4 linked regions of the Homo sapiens genome follow. The protein of the gene in region 1 interacts with the protein of each later gene in a pairwise test. Each region holds a gene or a part of one and is shown in the gene's direction. Other genes may lie near its edges.

Region 1 (3,500 bases):
CTCCACAGCAAGTCCAAGGACTTCTTTACCCAGCTGTTAACTAGGAATGGTGAGGAGAGCAGAGGGCCAGGAAAACATGTCTTACCTGCCTGGGCTAACGCAAAGAAAAGCGGCAAAGGTTCCGTGCTGGTCGGCAGTGTGGGGAGAGGAGAGTCTGTTTCCAGTGGAATCCTGTGGGCAGCCTGAGGAAGAGAACAGGATCGATGCCATGTGCCGAAGGTGGCTGAGGCTCATATGAGACACCCTTAGAAGACAGGTTATGGGAAGGCTAGGGCGGCTTTCATTTGCTTATTTAACATGTATTTTAGTATCCTGAGCTAGGTGCTAAGGATACAAAGGTGAGAGCTGGAGGCTGCTCTGTGTGTGCAGCCTAGTGTGACAGGCCTGTGATGGAGGTGTGTGGAGAGCAGCCGGGGGACGGGAAAGCATCAGGAGACAAGCGTCGCTGAAGGATGAGCAGGTGCCGACCAGGTGAAGCCATTTTCTCAGACCCGGCTGACAGTGGAATCACCTGGGGAGCTTTTAATAACCCGGAGCCCATTGAATATGATGGATCTGATCAAGAAAAAATCCAGAGCCCAGGACACACTCCTGAACAATTAAATGAGACTCTCTGAGATTGGAACCCAAGCATCATTACTGGAGATTTCAAAGTACAGCCAAGGAGGAGACCATGGGGGTTATCAGATAATTTGTGCCTTAGGTTTTCAGGGCAATGGAATGGTTAAATGGGTGACTCTTTTTGTTTTTGTTTTTTTTAATTGAGCCTTCTTATTCACCCTTTCTAGGAAACCAAGAGAGTTGCCTTCTGGACCTGGGTCTGGGGAGGAGCTAGAAGGAGGGAGGGGGGCAGGCAGGAAGGGGAAAGGACGGAAGAGGACTCTGGGGCTGTAGGGTCTAAGCTCTCAGTGTCATTGTCACAAACCACGCCTCCCTCACTGCCAGGACCTCCTGCAGAATTCCCCCAATTCCATGTCCGGAGTCTCCAATAACCCCCAGGGGATTGTGGTCCCAGCCTCAGCGCTCCAGCAGGGCAACATCGCCATGACAACCGTCAACTCACAAGTTGTGTCAGGTCGGTGCAAAGACTGGGAAGGGTGATTGTGGGAATTCCCTGGGAGGAGAAAGGGTGGCCCCGAGGCGGTTCCAGGGGTGGGGGTTGTCCTCCACCGAGGGAGGGGCTCCCAGCTCAGTTTCTTGACTAAAGTTTTCTGTAAGTTTATAGACGGTTAGCGCCAAGACCCAATTGTGATGGTTTAGAACAAATTTGGGTCAAAATCTCATGAGCCCCTGAGAGGACCAAGTAAGGCTGTTGTCCCTTCCCCGAAGCACCTCCCACCAGAGGCTCTGTCCTAGGCTCTAGACACCATCCCCCACCCACCCATAAAGCAGAAAGCCATAGCTCGCTACCCAAGGGCTCCAAGTAGAGGGTCTTTACACATGAGTGCCAAATGAACTGGGAACCCTGCTTGCCCTCGCTCCTACCCACTCCCATGGCAGGGGACCCCAAAACTGGTTGTCTCCTCAGGTGGAGCCTTATACCAACCGGTTACCATGGTAACCTCCCAGGGTCAGGTGGTCACCCAAGCAATCCCCCAGGGAGCCATCCAGATCCAGAACACACAGGTGAGTGTGTGTAGGTGTGTGCACATGTGCATGGTGTGGGCTAGGGCACCTGTAATCGCTTCTTATCTGCCAGGCACTTTACACGGGTGACTCATTGAATCCTCATCATCCTCTAAGAGGTATCATTACCCCTACTTTACAGATAAGAAGCTGGGTCTTGGAAAGGTTTTATCAACTCCTGGGATTTTGCTGCCTCCCTCCTGGGGTTACATCAAAGGATCCTGCACTTCCTATTCCTGTCTGCAGACTGAGCCGCTGTGTCCCTCAGTGGTAGAGAGTGCACACACAAAGGAAGAGTAGAAAGATCGGAAGTCAGAGTCTGGGATCTGACATTAACTCTGGGATCTCTGATAAGTCACCTAACCTCTCTGAGCCTCAGACTTCTTATTGATAAAAGGGGGATTAATAGCAACTGCACACAGCCTAGCCAACCTACAGGGCTGCTGTGAGAATGAACCACAGCGATGGATAGGAAAGTGCTTTGCAAACTGTAAAGTACCACAGAAATGCTGATAACTACTTGACAGCTTATGGCAAATTCATATCTTCTCCTGTTCTCTCTGCATGGCCCTGTTTCCTCTGTCTTTCTCTCTCTCTCTCTCTCTCTCTCTCTCTCTCTCTCTCTCTCTCTCTCCCCCCCTTCCCCATCTCTTCCTCCTTGTCCTTCTTCCCTTCTCCCATCACCCAAGCCTCACCTCCACTCTCTGAGGGGCTGGCATGGGCTGAGAGGGAAAGGTGACCTCCCCAGGGCCCTAGGAATGAGCCGGGAAAGGGGCTGGCAGCCAAGCCTGCCGTCGCTATGGCAACAGGTCCCCAGCCGCTGCCCTCACAGGCTGCTGATGCTGATTTTCTCTCCACGTGCCCTGAAGGTTAACCTTGACCTCACCTCCCTCCTGGACAATGAGGATAAGAAGTCCAAGAACAAACGAGGAGTCTTGCCCAAGCATGCCACCAATATAATGCGTTCTTGGCTCTTCCAGCATCTCATGGTGAGTGTGTGTGTCTTGGGGGTGTGGAGTCCCGGCATGGGGTATGAATAACCCACCGTGTGGGTACCAGACTCTGCTGTCGGCTCCAAACCCACAGACAGAGGGCGCGGCCTCGGGGAGAGCTCTCTGATAGGAATGACATCTGGAGTCCAGGCCAGGGGGGCTCAGGTGGGGCCTAAAGCTGGAGACCTTCTCCAGTACCTGCTGCTGTTGCTATCTGGAAAAAATGTGGCAACACATGGGGTAATGGGGACAAGTGCATGCTCAAGAGTCAAGTGCTGGGCAGGTGTGTCACACTGTTTCATGAACAGAGAGAGGGTCACTGCGGGGAGTGGGTGGTTTCTGGTCCAGAGCCCTCCCCCTGCCGCAGCCACGCTCACCGTGCCCCTCTCCCATGGAAGAATGTGTTGACTCTGCCAGGACTCCTGAGTCCTCCCCACTGGGTGAGCCAAGCGCTGTGTGGTGGAGATGGGCGCCAAGGCTGGAATCCTGGCTCCTCATGTCACAGCTCAGCTCCAGGACACAGCACTATTTCTTTCATAAGCTGCAGCAGCTCCTTTTATAAAATGGCACACTACCTCGGGTTGCAGTGGAGTGTTACTGAAGTGCATACTGTGTGAAGGTTGCTATGTGTTTGTGTGCAGCATTAGTTGCAAAAGACGAGCCTTTGGTGGAATGTCAGGAAAGACTTCAAAATTGCAATCTCCCAACACCACTTTCAAGGGCTGTGGCAGTAAATAAAGGCCAGTGACTGTGCTGAGTGTGTATGCGCTGGTGTGTGTGTGTTCTGGGGTGGGGAGGTAGATGCTGTGACCACGGGCGGGCTTCCATTAGTCTGCGAGCTCCTGCCCTGGCATGTCAGGACAGACAGACACAGATACAAGA
Region 2 (3,500 bases), on another chromosome or scaffold:
TTGGCTTCCCAAAGTGCTGGGATTACAGACGTGAGCCACGGCACCTGTCTTTTTTTTTTTTTTTTTTTTTAAGGTAACCAAGATAATTTTAAGAATAGATTAGAGGTTAGAAGAGACTGATACCAGAGAAATAAATGCTGTTGTAGTAGTTCTTAAGAGAGATATGGCCTAAGCTAAGGTTTTTAAGGATGCTTGTAGTACAGGATATTTCTGAAGTAGGATCGACAGGATTTGTAACTAATGGAGTACAGGAGAAGGAAAGGATGTCAAGGATGACTGGTTTCTGGCTTAAGCAATTGAACTGAGCAAGGTTGGAGATATAGCAAAAAATGTTTGTGGTGAGATATGTAGGAGGCCAAAGGGACATCAAGATAGAACTAGACAATGAGGACTTAGGTAAATGTCAGTTTAGACTTAATCACCTGTAGGAGAAATGATGAAAGTGGGTGTGTCATTGGGGAAGTAAGGAGGTAGGAATGGAACTCTAGGAAGTGTCAGTTAAGACATGAACAGAGGAAAGAGAGCTACAGAAAAAAAGGACTGAAAAGGAATAGGGAGACAGCTGGGGGCTGACAGAGACACAAGGGCCAGAAGAAAGGAATAGAGAATGGTTATTGATAGAGTATTAGAGAGGAGGGACCATTTTTCTGCTGAGAGGGAAAGGAGGAGGATAAATGCTGCATTAGAGGTAAATCTAGGAGTAGAATAAAAATTGATATGTTACATCGATTGGATTTTCTTTTCTGTTTTTTTATTTTTTGAGACAGAGTCTCACTCTTGTCTCCCAGGCTGGAGTGCAGTGGCACGATTTCAGCTCACTGCAACCTCCCCCTCCCAGGTTCAAGTGACTCTCGTACCTCAGCCTCCCGAGTAGCTGGGGTTACAAGTGTGCACCACCACATTGAGCTAATTTTTGTATTTTAGCTAGAGGCAGGGTTTCACCGTGTTGGCCAGGCTGGTCTTGAACTCCTGACCTCAAGCAATCTGCCCATCTTGGCCTCCCAAAGTTTTGGGATCACAGGCGTGAGCCACTGTACCTGGCCATTCTTTTGTTTTTCTTAAAGAGCCATCTTTTTTGTGTTCACCATGGTTTAGTCTCAACTTTTACATATTTTCTCTCACAGATACACCCTTCTTCTATTGGCAAAAGGTAGTATCATGAACTTTTAAGGATCCTTATTGAAACCAGTATAATAGAACACTTACAGGTAAAGTAGGATTTTTGTTTGTTTGTTTATTCATTTATTTATTTAAATAGGAACGCCAGCCACTACATCTGCAGCTACAACAGGCTTCAGTTTAGGATTCAATAAACCTGCAGCATCTGCCACACCATTTGCTCTACCTATTACCTCTACCTCAGCTAGCGGTCTGACTCTTTCGTCTGCTCTGACATCAACTCCAGCAGGTGAGGCAGAATGAAAAACCGTTGCATTTAATGGTTAAATTTCAATTTTATCTGGTTAGAGAACATAGATAGTCACCTTACTACAGAAATTATTGATTTATAAAGAAGAAAATTCAGCTTTGAGCATTGAAGCAGGAGAGGCTGTCTTGATGTCCCTATTTAGAGAGCAAAGCAGGGGAGAGGGCTAGAGAGGTAAAATGTAAAGCTGTTAATATTGACTTTGTTTTGAAGGAGGCATTTAGTGACAGGGGAAGACAAAGACTTGGCATAAACCTTGCCTGGCTTATGATTCATTTAATATGAAGGTGAAGTTGGTGGCCTGGGTTGAAGACAATATTGCTATCTAGAATCAGTTACCTGGTACCATTCTAATACTCCTCAAAGCCCTTATTTCTGTCGCAGATTTTTGCTTTGAAGCTGCTATTTCTCTTTATTCTTAAGTATGTAATTTTTAGCAAGTAGTTCTTCCAAAGAGCCAATTTTATCATGGATGTCAGTTTTTAAAAACATCGTATTTGTATTTTTCTATGGTGCTGTTAAATAAGTTGCCTTTTGAAAGCTTACTATCTCTCTTTTTATAGCATCCACAGGATTTACTCTAAATAATTTGGGTGGGACAACAGCCACAACTACAACTGCATCAACAGGCCTCTCTTTAGGGGGAGCCTTAGCTGGTTTGGGAGGTTCACTTTTCCAGAGTACAAACACAGGAACATCAGGTAATTGATGGTATTTATTCTCCAGAATAGTAAATATTTATATTTAAATGTACTTATTTTTATTTTAGTACTTTGAGCAGGTCACTTTTTAATCTGCATATTTTCCTTTAAATATGAAAACTAAATTATAAAATGATGGTTTTCATACATAATTGGATGTATTAACCGTATTTTATTTATTTATTTATTTATTTTGAGATGGAGTCTTGCTCTGTCACCCAGGCTGGAGTGCAGTGGCGTGATCTTGGTTCACTGTAACCTCCACCTCCAGGGTTCAAGAGAGATTCTCCTGCCTCAGCCTCCTGAGTAGCTGGGATTACAGGTGTGTGCCAGCACACCTGGCTTATTTTTGTATTTTTAGTAGAGATGAGGGGGTTCACCATGTTGGCCAAGCTGGTCTCAAACTTCTGACCTCAAGTGATCCGGCTGCCTTGGCCTCCCAAAGTGCTGAGATTACAGGCGTAAGCCACCGCACCCAGCCTATTAGCCATATTTTAGAAATACATTTTCCTCTTTCTCAATATTGACTAACCAGATAAGGAAACAAAGAAGAGCCTGTTTAAGGAGTCAGTAAACTGATCTAGAGATAACATCTCTTCTAAAAAGAACAAAAATTGTATTAGCTCAGTAATGCATGGTCTTATAAAAGTATAGATTTATTAGGCTGGACACGGTGGCTCACACCTGTAATCCCAGCACTTTGGGAGGCCAAGGCAGGTGGGTCATCTGAGGTCAGGAGTTCGAGACCAGCCTGACCAACATGGTGAAACCGCATCTCTACTAAAAATACAAAATTAGCTGGGCATGGTGATGCATGCCTGTAATCCAAGCTGTTTGGGAGGCTGAGGCAGGACAATCACTTGAACCTGGGAGGCAGAGGTTGCAGTGAGCCGAGATCATGCCATTGCACTCCAGCCTGGGCAACAAGAGCGAAACTCCATCTCAAAAACAATAATAACAATAAAAAAGAAATACAGATTTATCAACACAAGATGCTTGAAATTTTGCGCTTGACTCACAAGTGTACGTTAATGACTTATGATTAACCGTAGTCTGGTCCTTTTTATTCCTTTTGTCAGTGAGGGAAGATGTAAATAAGCAAATGAATTCTAATACTTTTTTTTAAGTTTTGTGAAACGAACTTGGGAGTATGAAATTATATTCAATACATGTTATATTCAAATGTTATAAATTCACACTAGATTATCTTAAAAGTATGTAGTTCCAAAGTGTGTTTGTAAGACAAGATGTATTCACCTGAAAATACACCAACTGAAACTGCTTTTGTAGAGAGGGTTTAAAAGCCCTCTGTAACAAAACCCCTTTATAACAAGTGAAGATTGAGTGCCTACATACTGAATTGATATATGTTC
Region 3 (3,500 bases), on another chromosome or scaffold:
GTACATAGGGCATGTTTCTGATCTCTGTTCTTCATGAGGATGTGTCTATTTTTTAACTTTCAAAGGGATTAAAAAAGAATTGCATGTGTTTTGAGTGCCAGAACTTTCCATTTATCTTTACACATTAATTTTAGTTAGTAGACAGAATTCACTTAACTAATAGCTGATATGATCAGTATTTTGTTTCCAAAACAGTATCATTCTGCTAAGTGGTTCCATAATAAAATAGAAGGAAAGGTATTGTTTTGTTCCTCAAGTGCATTCAGAATACACACACACACACACACACACACACACACACACACACACACCAGGTAAATCACTAATCTAAAAGACAAAATTGCATTTATTTTTCCCCCAATGGGTGCAAGGTCCTAATTGTAAATAATTGAATTTCAACACCTGCAAATAAGCAGTGTGTGCACAGAAGCATAATGTGAACACAGAGAAATGAATTTATTCCCCATATGGGTATGTTTGCCCCCTGGCAATGCATTTCCATACTCTTTAACTTGGGGACTGAAATGTTATAAATTGACAGTTCTACTCAGAAGACCTTTCAAGCATCTTGTGTTTATGAGAATACAGGGGCATCTGCGGAATGAATTCGAACACATGGATGAATTAAATTTGAAAACACACAGACCGAGAGGCAGACAGTTCCTAGGCTGTGGTCGTTGCATGGATTTTACAAAACTGTTAACCTACACCTTTGGCTTTGCTGTGTTCATTGTCCTGGGAAGAATTGTGGGTTTAAGAATTACTCTTTGATTAAACTACTTAAAAAAAAAAAAAAACCCTTTCCCTAAATGGGCATAATTTAGGTTAGTTCTGTTCTGTAGTTAAATCCCTACCCTCTCCCTGCTAATTAACATTATTTCTTTTTCTATGGCGGGACTCTGTATATTAAGTCATGAAAACAACTGAAGCATGCCACAGAGTTAGGGTTGGGTATATAATTTTGTCTAAATGTTCAAATGTTTTCACCCTGTGCATTATCGGCAGTTTGATCTTGAGAGTCCACCTAAGCTATCATGTTGTTTCTTTCTTGCAGAAAACATGCTTTAAACTGCCACAGAATGAAGCCTGCCTTGTTTAATGTGTTGTGTGAAATCAAAGAAAAAACAGGTAGGAATGAGATTCCAACATTTTAGCATTTTCTTTGGCCAATTAAATCACTTAACCAGCAGTCACAAATCTATTATTTAAATATTAAAATTTCAGAATACAAGTACTATGAAGGTTGACCTCATATTCGAATAGGAAGTCCTAGCCCTGCTTTCCTTAAAAAAAAGAATCAAGTTTCTTTGACAGTTATTATCAAGCACTACTGGTTAATTTTCCAGAACTCTATTTCCAGCCTTTTTGAGATTGGGGCTAAAATATAGATTCTGAAAGGAAATTTATAGACTGATGTATCTTTGGGGCAAAAATATGAAAGTAAAAGTTCATTTTTTTAAGGAATATATTTTGGCCCATTTTTAAAACCCTAATTTTTTTGGAGTTGGGTGTGGGGGTGCTAAACTGTTGAAAGTTTCCTTTCCTTTTTTTCTTGTAATTACACAAAGCAGCAGACTAGAGGTTCTCAACAGAGAGTGTTGTCAAATACCTTTGTGGAATGCGCTATACAACATTAGGTTATCGGTATTTGAGTGGCCTGTGATTTTATTGCAGGGAGAATCGTTGGGTTTAGGAGAGTATAACGCCATGAGATAATTCACTCTGTTGTTTTTCTACTTTCTAGACCTCGTTTCGTGGACTAACACACTTATAACACATCCCAGGAGGGCATTTAAATTTTAAAGCAACAATTAAAAAATAGCAGTCATCAATCAGAGGTGTTCTTAAACAACAGATGCTCTGGGAAGGACATTTAGCGACATCCCCTTGTTTATTTTAATCCTTAATTTTCCAAAGTGGGTAAAGCTCTCCCTTGTAAGAAGAAAGATTTGAGAAGGCAATCTGAAACCAGGGAATAAAGATGAGGGACAAGGGGTGGTTATATAAAGCGGGAGCTTCTGCTGGGCTCTGACTTACCCGCTCGCTTTAGAGCAGTGCAAAGTACCTGACATCCTATTTATTTATTTATTTTTTACAACAAGGAGTGTAACAGTCAATAATTCATATCTAAACCATATAAGCAAGGGCATGACATGAATGAAAGTGACAATAAATATGATTGCATGCTTGGTTGATATACATTGATAGTTACACATAAAAAATGGGCGGGGGGAGAGGGCACACAGGGTGGCTTTCTTTTTGAGAGCTCTCTGTGTTTTTCTTTTAAAAAAATAGTTTCAAGATGTGACTGTTGAATGAATATGTAATTACTTGGGTCTTGAAATGCGTGTAAAATTAGTACGCAGCTCCTTTGTTGAATGTTATTTGTGTTGTGCATAACATTCTAGACAAAGCACCTGAGAAGTGATGTTCAGACCTCTAAGTCTTCCAGGTTGCCTTGCCAAAGCTTAACCTTATTGCAAACCTGTTAATTGCATTATTTTAGCTGTGAGACAACTTTTAAAAGATTTATGGACTGTGCATTCAAATATCAAAAGAGTTTTTTCCAGTTTGTCACACTTTTTAGTTTCTTTTTTCTATTAGCCCAGAGTAGGAAACTTAAGTGTGTGTGTATATATATATTTATATATATTTTTTTATCTTCTCTCTTTTTTCTTCTTTGATCTCTGATGCTTATTTACTTTGAGTGTTTGGTTTGTTGAGATTTGTTTCTAACCAAGTATGAGTTCCTGCTGATCTTGTTTCATGAAATGTAGAATCAAAATATAAAAGCATATGTGATAATATGGACTAAAGAGAGTCTATTTTTGAAGATACTTTATCAGATTTTTATTGAAAGGAAGCCTGTCAGGGCACTTAAATGTACATTGTGGCCAAAGTGCTTAATTCTAGTTTCCTAATTAAAACCTACTGAGGCAGTAGATTAAAGTGGGTGGGTGTGAATAGAGATCCGGTTCAGGTGAGGGTTAAAGAGTTCGCTCCTTGTTCATGTTGGCTCAAGTATAATGATAGGAAGTAAAGTAGTCAGTCGTATTGGTCAAAGTAACATTCTAAAAGTTTTGTATTTTAAATTTTGTGTCAATACATTTAATGTTTAGAGACTTAAAAAAATCTAAATTAAGGTTTTTTGTGTTGTCTCTAGAATAACATATTTAAAAAAACAATTTACAAATAATGTAATTGAAAGTGATAAGAGTCATTGCCCCCTGTGTTAAGGGACACACACACACACACACACACACACACACAAGTCTTGGATTAAGAGGGCACCCCTGGGTGAAAGTAGGGGAAAAAAAAGGCTTACCTCCCTCTTAGTCTTCAACTTGTGTGTTGGAAGGATTGAAGGGAAGGCAAAAACCTCTCCTGGAATGTTGAGTGTTGTGTTAAAGGTAGGAGTCAACTGTGGTCTGCTGAAAAGAACCCTTTGATTCTAAAGCACGATTACTTGGCTACTCAAGACCCTGGAACCTTCAATCTTT
Region 4 (3,972 bases), on another chromosome or scaffold:
TAAGGGTGACTTGCCTCTGTTCTGGCCCCAAAGAAGCACCATCTGATAGAAAAATAAGTAGCAACATGGTATGGTAGAGTCTGGAATGGGGTTTACTGTGAATTGCGTAGGGCGTGGCAGAATTCACAGTAAAAGGTTTTTGGAAGAAGTGACACCATGGTGGGGTATTACTGAGCAAAGGGGAAAAGGAGGGAGGGAGAGGAGGTAAGAATATACAAGGCTCCGCTGGGCGCGGTGGCTCAGGTCTGTAATCCCAGCACTTTGGGAGGCCAAGGCAGGCGGATCACAAGATCAGGGAATCGAGACCATCCTAGCTAACACGGTGAAACCCCATCTCTACTAAAACTACAAAAAAATTAGCCGGGCGTGGTGGCGGGCCCCTGTAATCCCAGCTGCTCGGGAGGCTGAGGCAGGAGAATGGCGTGAACACGGGAGGCGGAGCTTGCAGTCAGCCGAGATTGCGCCACTGCACTCCAGCCTGGGCGACTGAGCGAGACTCCCGTCTCCAAATAAATAAATTAATTAATTAAAGAATACACAAGGCTCCACTGGGTTACTGGGTGTGCTGTAGGGAGATTTTATTGAATCCCATACTCCCATATTGGAAGAACACTCAAGCCCATTTACAGTGTGGGACTAATGCTGAGAGGTTGAGTCACATTGGCAGGAAAGAGCAGAGCCAGGAACTGAAGCTAGGTCTGTGACTTAGAGCCGGCACTCTTTCCACTGCAGAGGGGAGAGGTCTCAAGGCAGAACCTGGGGCTGTGCACACCGCGGGAAGGGCAGAGGCCCCTGGAAACGAACAGGAGCAGGAGGCCCAGGGCTGCGCAGCAACCAAGGAGGACACGAGGAAGGTGCTTGTGCCACCGGTGGAAGACGTGGCTTTGGCTTTTAGGCTCCCCTCGGGGCAGGAGCAGATCAAAGAGCCTAGCCCCAGCTTCGGTGGTGGGTGGGGGGTCCTCCCGGCAGCGGGGAGCGTGGGCACCAGCATCCTCAGCCTGCGGCTCCCAGGCGAGTGTGGGAGGGCAGAGCCCAGAGAATTGGAGGTGGGGCCAATGTGGGCCCCGCCCCCAACCATTGTGTCGGAGAGGGAAGTGGACGAGCTCCTCGGTAAGAACCAATGAGGATGTGGTATGCAAATAAGCAAGTGGAGGCCGCCAGCCGACTTCCTCGCACTGTGCAGCTGCTCCAGTGAGGGCGCAGACTGTACTGGCCTGTGCGGAGCAAGGCGGTGTTTCTGGTGAGTCTGTTGATTCTGGGCTGGGGTGAAAGCCAGGTTGCCCAGGGTTTGGGAGGAGGGCGGGTCGAGCACACGCAGATCCAAAGATGATCGGAGACAGGATTGTCCTCAGCGATTCCACCCCGATGACTCTGGAAACTGCCTGCCTGCAGACGCATGGGGGCCATGGAGCAGAGGAAGGGCTGGATGCATGAAGGAGGCGGGGTGCGGGGAGCGAGGGACCCGCAGACTCCAGGGCCACAGATGCGTGGACCTATTGGAGACCCTCAGGTTGTCTCCCCACCCCACGCAGAGAGGAATGCGCAGCTGAAGAGAGAGGTGGGCAGCAGGCCCGGTCACCTGCCAGGTGACCACATGGCCAGGTGCCGCCACCACTCGGGTTACCTGGCCGATGACGAGGCCAGCCACTCCATGTGCAGTGCACGGGTAAGTGTGCCCAGCAGGGCGCCGACCCTTGAGGCCACAACATGTTCCCCACCAACCCTGGCACCCAAGACCACAACCCCCATTTCTCATTGTCTATTGACTTCTCTGGGCCTCTTAGTGAAGTCCTTATTGCCTTGACTTCTCCTATGTCCCCCACTGCTTGCCCCTGTCACACTCAATTTCATTCCTTGTTTCCTCCTGACTTCCAGCGACCCAGAAGGTGCTTGGGTGGACTGGGACCCTAGAGTGGGAGCATGGAGTTGACTAGGTGCCTATGGCTCAAGTTGGAGAAACAGGCCCGGGTAGCACAGGGCTCAAGACCTCAGGTGTTGTCTGCACTCAAGACCTCAGATGTTGTTTGCAGCCCTGCCATGGATACAGGGATGGCCTGCTGCATGGACAGATGAGGAGCTGGAGGGAGACTCCGAGAGATTCATGATTGCTCATCCTGCCACGTGTCAGGGCAGAAGCAGGCTTGCAGACTCCTTAGCCAGGACTTGTGTGTGTGAAATGTAGGTGTTAGGAAAGCTTCGGGGTGACCCTGAATAGACCTCCACTTTGCAGATGAGGACATTGGACCTCAAGAGGGGCCATCTTGCACACTGGCATCAGGCTGTAGGTGGCAGAGCCAGGGTCCAAACCCAGGGCTTCCAGACTCCAAAATGCAGCTCCTTCCACTACTCACTCCCACCCAGGTCCTAGTGTTACCCCAGGGAACCCTTCACCTGTAGGGCACCCCTGCCCCCTGTGACATACCTGTCTGCTCAGGTGCAGCTGCCCAAGAAGCCACTGGTCCCAGAAATGCGGCCAGCCTGCAAGCCGGGCCGTGTGCCACACCCACCATCCACATGTGGCAGCTCAGCACTCCAGGGCCAACGCCGAAACAAGAGGCACCCTCAGCCCTTTGGCCACTTTCTGGATTTCCTAACTGAGAGCCAGGTCCTGGACAGCCTGGAGACAGTGGTGGAGAAGGCGACTGAGCGCATGGCTGCCATGAAGACGGAGGCTGGGGTGCCGCTTGTGGAGGTGCAGGACCCAGTGGAGGTGCCAAGTGGTGGACGGCGGGCACATGCCCGGCCCAGCCTCAGCACCGTACACCGGCACCGTGTACGGCCGACCCTCTGCACTGGACACCCCAACAACTACCCATCCAGCTCCAGCTCCATGTCCAACTGCCATAGCAGCCTCATGGCCGGCTGTCTGGGCTCCCACAGCCGGGACAGTGACCTAGGTGCCCAAGGCTCATTGCCACCTGTGAGGGACAAACTCCTGCTGGAGAAGAACCTCAAGCGGCTGCTACAGCTGGAGAGGGAAGGGGTGAGAGCCAGGGCCATGGCTGGGTGGGGTGGACTCCCATGGAGAGCCCAGGGCTAGGGTCAGCCCTGGCTTGGCTGCTCCTGAACACTTCACAGAGTCACCCTCTTTCTGCAGAAAGGCCTCAGTCAGTCCTGCTCCCAGAGGGACTCCCTGCTGTGGGATTCGCTGGGTAGCCAGACCAGCTTTCAGTGGACACAGGAGCAGCCCTTGTCCTGGTTCTCAGGGCTGCTGGGCTCAAGCTCTGGCGTGCCTGAAGCATCAGAGCCGAGGCCTGGAGAACAGGAGCCAATCTTCCGCAAGCGAGAGTTCAATAAGGAGATCAAGTCATTACTGAGCCAGCTGGAGTCCCTCGACCTGCCTGGCTACTGTCCGCTCCGTGAGCCCCATCGCACGCTGAACTTCCTGGCTGACCACCGCCTCTTCCCTGCCCTGCAAAGCGTGGTCAGCCAGGCTGTGGATAAGCTCCGTGGCGCCCACTGCCGCGACGGCCGTCCTCTGTTCCCCACCAGCTTGGAGCCCACCTCAGATCTGCCGCCTCTGGGCTCTGAGCCAGCTAAACCCACCAATGGCGGGCAGCCCTATGCTTCCCCCCGCCCCACAGTCTCCAGCCCCAAGATGCTTCAGAGAAAACGCAAGGACAGAGGAGGCTCCCCCTCCATGTCTAGTGCCCAGGTGGCCACCAGATTCAAACTCAAGGTGACACCCACGGAGAAGCCCAATGTCCCCAGCCCCTCACTCCACTCCAGGGAGGAGGCACCTGACTCAGATCCCAAATTACAAAACCCACCTGTTTCCCTGAGCTCCAGCCAGAGGGCCCAGCCCTGGCAGGGCCTGCACCTCACCCTGCCCACGCCAGGGATTGTGGTGGAGGTGGCCTGCAGCCAGGGCCACCTCAGGGGCCCTGTCACACCTCCACTTTCCTCCCCCTACCCCCGCTCTTCCTGCTACCTTCTCCCTGAGCTCTCTCCAGTTGCCTCTTCATCTCCCGC

Evidence for each region. The genes of interacting proteins can lie anywhere in the genome.
Region 2: the proteins of PKNOX2 (region 1) and NUP58 interact in binary tests that used the Homo sapiens proteins (3 or more experiments, as listed by UniProt).
Region 3: the proteins of PKNOX2 (region 1) and PBX1 interact in binary tests that used the Homo sapiens proteins (3 or more experiments, as listed by UniProt).
Region 4: the proteins of PKNOX2 (region 1) and CCDC116 interact in binary tests that used the Homo sapiens proteins (3 or more experiments, as listed by UniProt).

What each region holds. Positions count from the first base shown.
Region 1 is NC_000011.10:125,409,251-125,412,750, forward strand, and holds part of PKNOX2 (homeobox protein PKNOX2), read left to right. Parts: intron 1-945; coding exon 946-1,075; intron 1,076-1,528; coding exon 1,529-1,626; intron 1,627-2,495; coding exon 2,496-2,615; intron 2,616-3,500.
Region 2 is NC_000013.11:25,311,625-25,315,124, forward strand, and holds part of NUP58 (nucleoporin p58/p45), read left to right. Parts: intron 1-1,258; coding exon 1,259-1,408; intron 1,409-1,989; coding exon 1,990-2,127; intron 2,128-3,500. UniProt on the Homo sapiens protein: Component of the nuclear pore complex, a complex required for the trafficking across the nuclear membrane.
Region 3 is NC_000001.11:164,562,184-164,565,683, forward strand, and holds part of PBX1 (pre-B-cell leukemia transcription factor 1), read left to right. Parts: intron 1-1,054; coding exon 1,055-1,128; intron 1,129-3,500. UniProt on the Homo sapiens protein: Transcription factor which binds the DNA sequence 5'-TGATTGAT-3' as part of a heterodimer with HOX proteins such as HOXA1, HOXA5, HOXB7 and HOXB8. Binds to the DNA sequence 5'-TGATTGAC-3' in complex with a nuclear factor which is not a class I HOX protein.
Region 4 is NC_000022.11:21,631,588-21,635,559, forward strand, and holds the start of CCDC116 (coiled-coil domain-containing protein 116), read left to right. Parts: upstream 1-1,172; 5' UTR 1,173-1,240; intron 1,241-1,392; exon of another isoform or gene 1,393-1,396; coding exon of another isoform or gene 1,397-1,594; coding exon 1,595-1,666; intron 1,667-2,434; coding exon 2,435-2,983; intron 2,984-3,097; coding exon 3,098-3,679; coding exon of another isoform or gene 3,680-3,972.